Linked DNA regions of Homo sapiens: region 1 is reported to be linked to region 2. The links are microRNA targets in miRTarBase. Many come from high-throughput screens and were not tested one by one. Region 2 holds a microRNA gene; the other region holds the end of a gene's coding sequence.
What was found. Region 2 holds the annotated microRNA hsa-miR-4527 (UGGUCUGCAAAGAGAUGACUGU, at 2,942-2,963, opposite strand). A microRNA usually pairs through its seed, bases 2 to 8, with sites in the 3' UTR of a target mRNA and lowers its output. Matches are read on the target gene's strand: a 7mer-m8 pairs with bases 2 to 8, a 7mer-A1 pairs with bases 2 to 7 and ends in A, and an 8mer does both.

Region 1: miRTarBase lists BCL2L14 as a target of hsa-miR-4527. The part of its 3' UTR that is shown has no 7-base or 8-base seed match.

What each region holds. Positions count from the first base shown.
Region 1 is chr12:12,098,129-12,102,522 of GRCh38, reverse strand. It overlaps BCL2L14 (BCL2 like 14), which reads right to left. Exons shown (of 6, transcript NM_138723.2): 6 at 2,828-3,573. The coding sequence ends at 3,535. Among named protein-coding and RNA genes, the nearest start is that of MIR1244-4, 12 kb to the left of the region's middle.
Region 2 is chr18:47,379,072-47,383,465 of GRCh38, reverse strand. It overlaps MIR4527 (microRNA 4527), which reads right to left and starts at 2,970; the gene lies at 2,901-2,970. The region is part of intron 1 of MIR4527HG (MIR4527 host gene); the gene reads right to left.

The sequences.
Region 1 (4,394 bases), not on the chromosome of region 2:
TGAGCAATTTATGGTGTGCCTTGGCATAGTTTTCTCCCTGTCCCTGTTTTTGGTGCTTGGCATTTGTAGAATTTCTTGGTTCTGTGGGTTTATAGTTTTCATCAAATTTGGAAAATCTTCACTTCAATTATACCTATATATATAGGCCATTCATTAGAAGTCATTCCACAATTCGCTATTGCTGTTTTTTCCCTCAATCTTATTTTTCTGTTTTTTATTTTGGATCTATTGCTATGTCTTCAAGTTTACCTATCCATTCTTCTATGATGTCTAATCTGCTATTAATCCAATCCAGCATGTTTTTCATCTCAGATGTTATAGATTTCATCTCTAGAACTTTGGTTTGAGTCATACTTATAAGTTCTATGTGTACTTTGCATGTTATATTTCTTCTGGCTTATTGAACATGTGGAATACAGTTATAATAGTTCTAATGTCTAACAATTCTATCATCTGTAACATTCTAGCTTTCCTGATTTTTCTTCTCATGATGGATTGCATTTTGCTGCTTTTTTGCATGCCTTATAATTTTTTATCAGAAGCTAGACATTGTGAATATTACCTTGTTGGATGCTGGATATTTTGATTATTCTATAGATATCCTTGCGTTTGTTCTAGAACACAGCTCAGTTATTTGGTAACAGTTTAATCCTTTAAGTTTTTGCTCTTAATCTTTAGGTTGTGCAGAACCAGAGAGTGCTTAGTCTAGGGCTAATTTTTGCCACTTCTGAGACAAAATTGTTTTGTGGATTCTACCTATTGCCAAAATAGGCAGTATTCATGGCCTTGTGTAGGCTTTGGAGAGCGTTCCCTTTAATATTTTCAGGTGGTTCTTCCCCATGCCTTGGGTAATTTCTTCATGCACATGTTTTGATCAGTATTCATCTGAATACCTAAGGGGAAATATCTGCAGGTCTCTGGAGCTTTGTGTGCCTCTCTCTTTCATCCTTTATCAGACTTGCAAACTTCAGCTGCTCTGATCTTTCTGGACTCCTAGCTCTATCCTCTCTACTCAGGGAGCTGGTGAACTCTGCGTGGGTTCCCCTCTCTCCAGCATGACCTAGAAACTCTTTGCATGCAGTACTCTAGGGCAAACATAGGGCTCACTTAGAGTCTCATCTCTCAGGGACCAGTTCTCTAAAAGGAGACTCCTAGCCAGACGCGGTGGCTCACGCCTGTAATCCCAGCACTTTGGGAGGCTGAGGCAGGCAGATCACGAGGTCAGGAGATCGAGACCATCCTGGCTAACACAGTGAAACCCCGTCTCTACTAAAAATACAAAAAAAAAAAAAAATTACCTAATGTCCAATGCCTTGAAAATCATTCTCATCTATAGTGTCTTTTTTTTTTTTTAGTTGTTTCAAGCAGGAGATTAAATCTCGTTAGTTACTTCATCTTGACCACAAGCCATAGATGATATTGGAAACACATGGAGAGCTTGTTGTAAGTACACATATCTTAGGGCATATTCCAGTCATACTGATTTACAAGCTGTATCAGTCAGACGAGGGTATGGTTCTGCAACTGTGTGCCAAAACTATGCCAGGCACTAGATATATAAAGTTAAATTAGGCATAGTACCTGTTTGCAAACGACTTTACAATCCACTGAGAAAGACTGGGTAAACCAAATCTTACGGTGCAATATATTAAGCATAATGTCTACATGCAGGGTGATTTGGAGCATCTTATGAGAAAAGGCATCCAAATATAGCCACATGATGGCCAAGGGAGGGTTAGCAAATGAGTCCTGGAGGAAACTGAGGAAATTTGGAAAGATGAGCTAGAGTTAGTTGTTTTAGTGGAAACAGGGGGAAAGGAAGCCATCATGCAAGAACACTCCAAGTAGAGAGGATACTGTTATGAAGGCTCAGAGGTGCCAGGTTGCATAATACCTTTGGGGAACTGCAAAAAGTTTGGAATGGCGAGATCAGAGTGGATGGAGGAAGAGGTGGTCTTCAGTGTCTCCATGTCTAAAAGGAGACTCCTGGCTGGGTGTGGTGGCTCACGCCTGTAATCCCAGCACTTTGGGAGGCCAAGGCGGGCAGATCACGAGGTCAGGAGATCTAGACCATCCTGGCTAACATGGTGAAACCCCGTCTCTACTAAAAATACAAAAAAAAAAATTAGCCGGGCATGGTGGCGGGTGCCTGTAATCTCAGCTACCTGGGAGGCTGAGACAGGAGAATTGCTTGAACCCAGGAGGCGGAGGTTGCAGTGAGCCGAGATCACGCCACTGCACTGCAGCCTGGGTGACAGAGCGAGAGTCTGTCTCAAAACAAAACAAAACAAACAAACAAACAAAAAATGGAGACTCCTCTATCCCTAACAGTGATGACTTTCATGTGGGAGAAGAAAACAAAAGAGAATAACTCATTTTATTGAGATGGGTAGGCTAGTGAAGCATTTGATAATAGATAGATCCAGTTTTCCCTTGAACCTGAGAGTATGTCTGACTTACTGACTTGTTTGTTCTTCAAAGTTTTATTAAGCACCAGTTTTACATCAGGCCATATGCTGGGTACTACATATCCAGAAATTTGTAAGACCTTATAATTTGATAGTATTTTTTAAATTGTTTTGTGTCTTAAACACTTACTATTGAGCATGTTTCTAAAAAACCTTATACCGAACAGCCGCAATCTCAGGAAAGCAATCAGTGACTGCGTTGACAGGAGAGGAAATTGGCAGCTTAGCTGAGGGCAGCACACATTAGGGACCATAAGTGAAGACTTAACATTAAGTACCAAGAAGTGTTCTGAGCATTTTATGTAAATTAACTCATTTGATAATCAGAAGACTTATTACTTACTAATCAGAAGACACTCTTTTGACAGTAGTCTTTCTATGTATTTATTTTACCTGCTACCAATCATTGTACTACCACAAAGAATGAGGAAGTCCCAGGGACCTTGGGAAGAAGAGGTGTGGTCCCTGAGAAAAGGGTTGAGGGGGTGTTGGAGTAAAAATTTTGTACCAAATGGAAGTTTTTCAAAAAGGCACAGACAACAGTTACCTCTCCAAACAAATGGATGTAGCAGTAAACCTAAGAGTTTCTTTAGGCTGTTTACTAACGTGAATAGCAACATCTTCCTAGGTATTAGGCCACCCCAAGTGTAGTTTAAAAATAAATAGTACTAGAAACGGAAGTGGAAACACATGCACAGTTTATCTTTTCACTCTTGTGAGGTCAGCAGACATCTGTAACGCACTTTCCCTACAGCAGCTAACAAAGGCAGGATGATGGTATCTGTTCTGAACGTTTGAAACAACATCACCACTTATCTTTACAGATTTCCTCAGGTTCTCAATGGAGGGCCTGAAAAACATCACTGTCAAGGATGATGCTGCTACATTTTATGAGCTGGAGACGAACGAGACCTCTCCTGATGCCTCTCCAGTCACAGGAATAATGGTTTTGAAAACGTCAATGCTCCATCTGCCTTGTACGTTGTAATCTCCTGTAGTCCATCTGAGGCCAACGTGCACAGGACCACAGTAGACAAAGAGTATTCCTGATGACAAATCTGATATTTCAGTCTACTTCTTCATGTGATATCCCAAGTATTTTTTCCTAGAGGGGAAAAATAGGTTCTTAAAATTCCAAGTTAGATTTACTGTTGAAGTGAAAACATATGGCTGCTAACTCTGCTCTATCCCAGGCGTGACCCGAGGCTCAGGAGACCATGTTAGTTTGGGGGAGGGTTTGGAGAGGTGACTGGCATTCTTGGTATGCCTGCAAGGAAGACATCAGCTAAGGTCTTACGTTACACACCCAGAGCTAACAGGCTGGATCTTTCCTTGAAGATGGGAGGGCTTCAAGGGTGTATTTAAAATGTAATAAAAGTGGGTACTGAAAGGTCAATGACTATGAAGGTTACAACTCTCTCCTTTCAAAGTGCTACAGAATGGGTGAGGTTGCAGGACTGCAGGGTAACTATGTGAATGGTGCTCCACAGAGAGCACAAAGAGCCAAGGAGTAAATCAGAATCTCGTGGTAGCTTGTTTGGCATGCCTTGTAGATAGAGTTGCTATTCATTCATTTGATCGATTCATTCACCGTTCTACAAGTACTGGCTGAACATCTATGGTGTTATGTAGAGGAATGGGAGCTATGGGAGATTAAAGGAGCCATCATAAAAACATGATCTCACCCTTACAGATTTGCAGTTTAGTTGGGAAGATGAGATGTACTCATATGAAATGTGGAATACTGAGATAGGAACCCTGAGCTTCTGGAAAGCTTGTGCATGGGACTAGATTTCTCTCCTCCCACACTACTACAAGGACAGCAGAGAGAGCCATCGAGACACTTGGTGCCAATGGAAGTCCCAGGAGGCTTACTTCCCATTGTCTTCTTTTTTTCCCGTTAAGGGACTCTGAGCACACGCCCCA
Region 2 (4,394 bases):
ATGCCTGAAGATCAGCTGCCTATAAGGTATGATTAGGGAGGCATTGAACAGGCTCTTCCCTAGAAAAACCCAGCTTGCCCCAACTGTACCTACCACAAGGTCTGGAATGCCACTGTTAGCATGCCAGCCTATCAGGCCTCCAAGGATTTTTCAGTCTTCCAGATCTCCCTTGAAAATGCCATGTGCAGAACAAGGCTCACCCTGAAGGCATTATCTTGTCAGCTTGGTCCCCAATCTCACAACTGGCTATAAGAAAAATTCTAGGAGAAGGTTACAGATGGAGCTGTATTGGGGGATCATGAAAAAGGCTGGAAGTTCCAAAAGCAGACCACCTCTTCCCACAGGCAGTGGAAGGGCCTTTCCAAGTCATCGCATCACCAATGCCCCCTTGCTTCCTACTTGTCCCTTATGTAGGACCCCTCTCTGTTGCTGGGCTTATGGGAAGGAATTACTGTCCCCCTCATACAGCAATGGCTGAGAGGGCTTGGGGAGCTTATGCAGCCAACGTTAGGCCTACAGAGATGAGAGCCTCTTGACCAAGGTCTCCATGGTGGGTTAAGGGTACAGCCTCAACCAAAGTAACAACAGTGATAATAGCAGCTACCCTTTATCAAATCCCTCCTAAGGCCAAGTCCCATTCTAAGTCATTTAGCCCTCATAATGCCCTATAAGGCAGAGACTATTAATATTTCCCTTCTACAGATGAGGAAACTAAGGCACAGAGAGGTGAAGTTTCCCAGTGCCTTTTATATGGGCGCCTAGCTTATGGGCGCCCAGGCTGGAGCTCAGGCTTTGGCTGCAGGACCACTGTGAAGAACTCTGAGGCAACACTGCTAGGACACCCAGGTCTTTGGCCTCCTGGGCCCAGGTGTTGCCCCTTCACTAATTTTTCTAAGGCTGGCCCAGATCCCTGGTCCTAAATCTAAGCCTCATCCCCATGTCACCAACCCCTCAGGCCCTGAAGGCTCTGGAAGTTTCCCCTCCTTACCTTCCCCTCCTCCTACCTTCCCTTTCACCGAAAGAGAGAAGCTGCAGCAGAAAGGTGTCAGAGAAAGTGATGAATGGAGGCTGACCCCAGGGCAGAGCTCACGTGGCCCGCCTCTCTACCCCCATCGAATCAGCCCATCTCCCTCATACTCACCTGACAGGCAGGAAGCAGAGCCCCGGGGTAGGAGCAGGGGCAAGGCACGTCTCCTGGGGCCACCCCCACATCACTAGGGCAACTGGGCAGACTTCCTTGCCCCACCTACTCCTGGCCCCAGGTCACGGTCCCCACCCCTGCCAGAGCCCCTCGACTGGCTAAGCCATCCTTCAGGCCCAGCTGACACGTGCTTCCCGAGTGCTGGTGACAGGCGCCCAGCTGGAAAATAACGAACTGTGGAGATGGGGCAAAGTGCAGGTTCTCCTGCATCAGAAATGACAGCCTCGGCTAAAGCTGCAGGCAGGGTACCCTCACACAGGCGTGTATACACACATGCTTATACACACATGCACATTTGCTCACACACTCACTCCATCTTGGCTGCATGAATGGGACCCAGGAAGATGAAGTAGGTCTCAGCTTATAAGGGGTGGTGCCAACTGCCACTGCTCTCTCTGAAAGACGAGCACTAACAGCAGCAATTCCTTCCACATAGATTACATCCTACAGTTTGCAAAGCACTTCCACACCTGCTGGATCAACAGATAAGTAGGGGTGAAAAATGAACTGGACAGTCACTTTGAGGCTAAGGGGTCACACGCAAGCTGCTGAACCTCTTTGTGCTTCTGCTTTACCATCTGTACAAAAGGGTTACTAATAGCACCCGATAAAAGCCACAGGGACTGGGGAGTTAGGGCGGCTTCATTAAAAACCCAGAAGAGACCATTCAGTTCTGCCCCCGTCTGCTTCAGCTGCTGATGGCTGCAGCTTCCCAACTTCCTGGTGCTCTAAATTTATCACGTTCCACAGCAGCCACCCTTCTGAGCCGCCTGGGTGAACTCCTGGGCAGAGTGACACCAGCCCCGGAGAGACAGAAGAGGAGAAACCATGAATGCATACGCATGCACCACACAGGCGCGGCCACTGCAGGTCCAGCCTGTTTCCGATGTCTGCTGTCTCTGCTATGGGCTTGGTGCTGGGCAGAATTTCCAGCCTGCCACAAAGACTCCTGGCGTAAGAATGGGAAGAAATAAGGCCACAACTACAGAACTGCCAAGAAACAAACCCACAGCTCATTTGAGACAGCCAGTGAGAGCACTTAATGTACAAAAGTTAGTATGGAGATGCCAGCATGGGCTCATTCAGCCCATGTTCATTCAGCATATCCAGTCAACATCCCCTAAATACCTGCTACCTACCCAGCTCTGGGATGGGTAGCACAGGGTGGGCAGGAAATAAGAGGACGCCACTCAGGCAGGCCTGAGACATAGACAAAGGAGACAGAGATCTTCTCCAGCACCTGCCACCATGCCTGAAATTCCACCATCAGGAATGAAGGCTATGACCATCGATGCCCATGTTTGCCTATGTGCACATGATAGGGAGATCCGCCTCCTCTTTATGGAATTCTTTCCTTTTATAATGGTTATACATATGGACAGATGTTTAGAATGTCAGAAATGGATGGGACTTGGGAGAGCTTCTAGTCCTTCCATCTTCAAACAAACTCTAAGTCAACAGGTAAAATACACAGAAGTGGCACAGACACAATTGGGTTGGGATGGCAGTGAGTGAGGAGGGCTAACTCAGCCTCTTTAAACTCTCTTTGCTCATGATGTCTCCTGACTTCCCTCAGAGAATTTGGAAAGCACTTCTCAAGATATATCCTTATGATTAGGCTCAATTGCAAGCAACAAAGATTCTAAACATGGTGGCTTAAACAGAGTAGTGGTGTTTGTTCTTTTTGTTCCCGGAGAAGTCAGATGTAGGCAGCACAGAGCTGATGTGGATCTTGGATTCACAGTCATCTCTTTGCAGACCACTTCTGGCCTCTGCTTCACATCTTCATGGTCCAAGATAGTAGGCTTATGATTCCAGGCAGCTGGCTGGAGGAAATGACAGAAAAGAAAGTCTCCCAGAAGGTGCTGAGGACCCATTCACATCCCACTAGCCATGATGTACAGTCACATGGCCACATACAGCTGCACAGCCTGCTGGAAAATGTAGTTTTACTTCCAGGAGGCCATGGGCTCAGCTAAGAGCTCTATGACATGAAGTAGAGGGAGAACGACTATGAAGTTAAGCAATTGGTGATTACTGCTCTATCAGTTCAATCCTCTACTTTATAAGTAATTAAAATGAGGTGGTAGGATGATTATAATAAGATCATTGGTTAAGGTTGTAATGCCCAAGAGATTTTCCCCAATACCCAACATAAGGCTTGACTTAGACAAAAACAAAAAGATAAGCCCTTGTCTTCCCAGTGGGAAGGGAGATATGCCAGCCAACATTAACATGATAAATGATGTGACAAAACTAAGTGCAAAATAGAATGGGAATAACAACACAGAGCACCCAAATCTCTCTGTGAGGGTCCAAGGGGTCACTGAGAGAGAGTGCTTTGCAGCTGAGGCTGGATTAGTGTGAGAATTGGTGTCTGTTGAGTGGACAAGAATGGGGAAAGATAAGTCTGGCAAAAGGAACAGTGTGTGCAAAGGCCCAGAGGCAGGATAGTGGACCATTTTTGGAAGCTAAAAAGAGGTGCAATATTGCCAGAACATACAGGGCAAAGGGGGTGTGATGGTTAATTTCACGTGTTCACTTGGAAGGTGTTTTCAGATAAGATTAACATTTAACTTGTTGAACTTTGGGTAAAGCAGAGTGCCCCCAAGGCTTCAACATACATGCATATCCTATCGGTTCTGTTTATCTGGAGAAGCCTGACTAATGCAGGAGATGAGGTTGGACAGATAGGCAGGGACCAAATCCTGAATGGCCTATGTGCCATTCAAGGCCATTTCCATCTTACACCATAGAAAAGGGGGATTCATTGGAGACTTCTGAGCAAGATAGGGGTCAGACTTGGATGTAAATCATGGCTTAGGGGTGTGGTGGGGACTATGATAGACCAACATGTACTGTTCGTCTACCGTACGTGATAAGCACTGTTCTAGAAGCTTTAGAGGAGAGTGGTCAAGGCCAGTGGCAGGGAGACAGAAGATAACTGGATGTGCTAGTGGAAAGGTAGCAGAGGCAAAGGAGACTCCCAGGTTTCCAACTTTCACAGCTCCACAAGGACAGAGCCTGACTCTCTTGCCCATCCCTGCACCCCCGGCACTAGCACAGTGTCTGGGACTAGGCCTGCATAATTCTTTTTGGAATCCAGAATGAATAGCTAAAGAGATAAAGACTCTAACAAAGAAGGGTTGTAGGTCCAGCGTAACATTGTAAACAAATGGGTTCTCACTTCAAT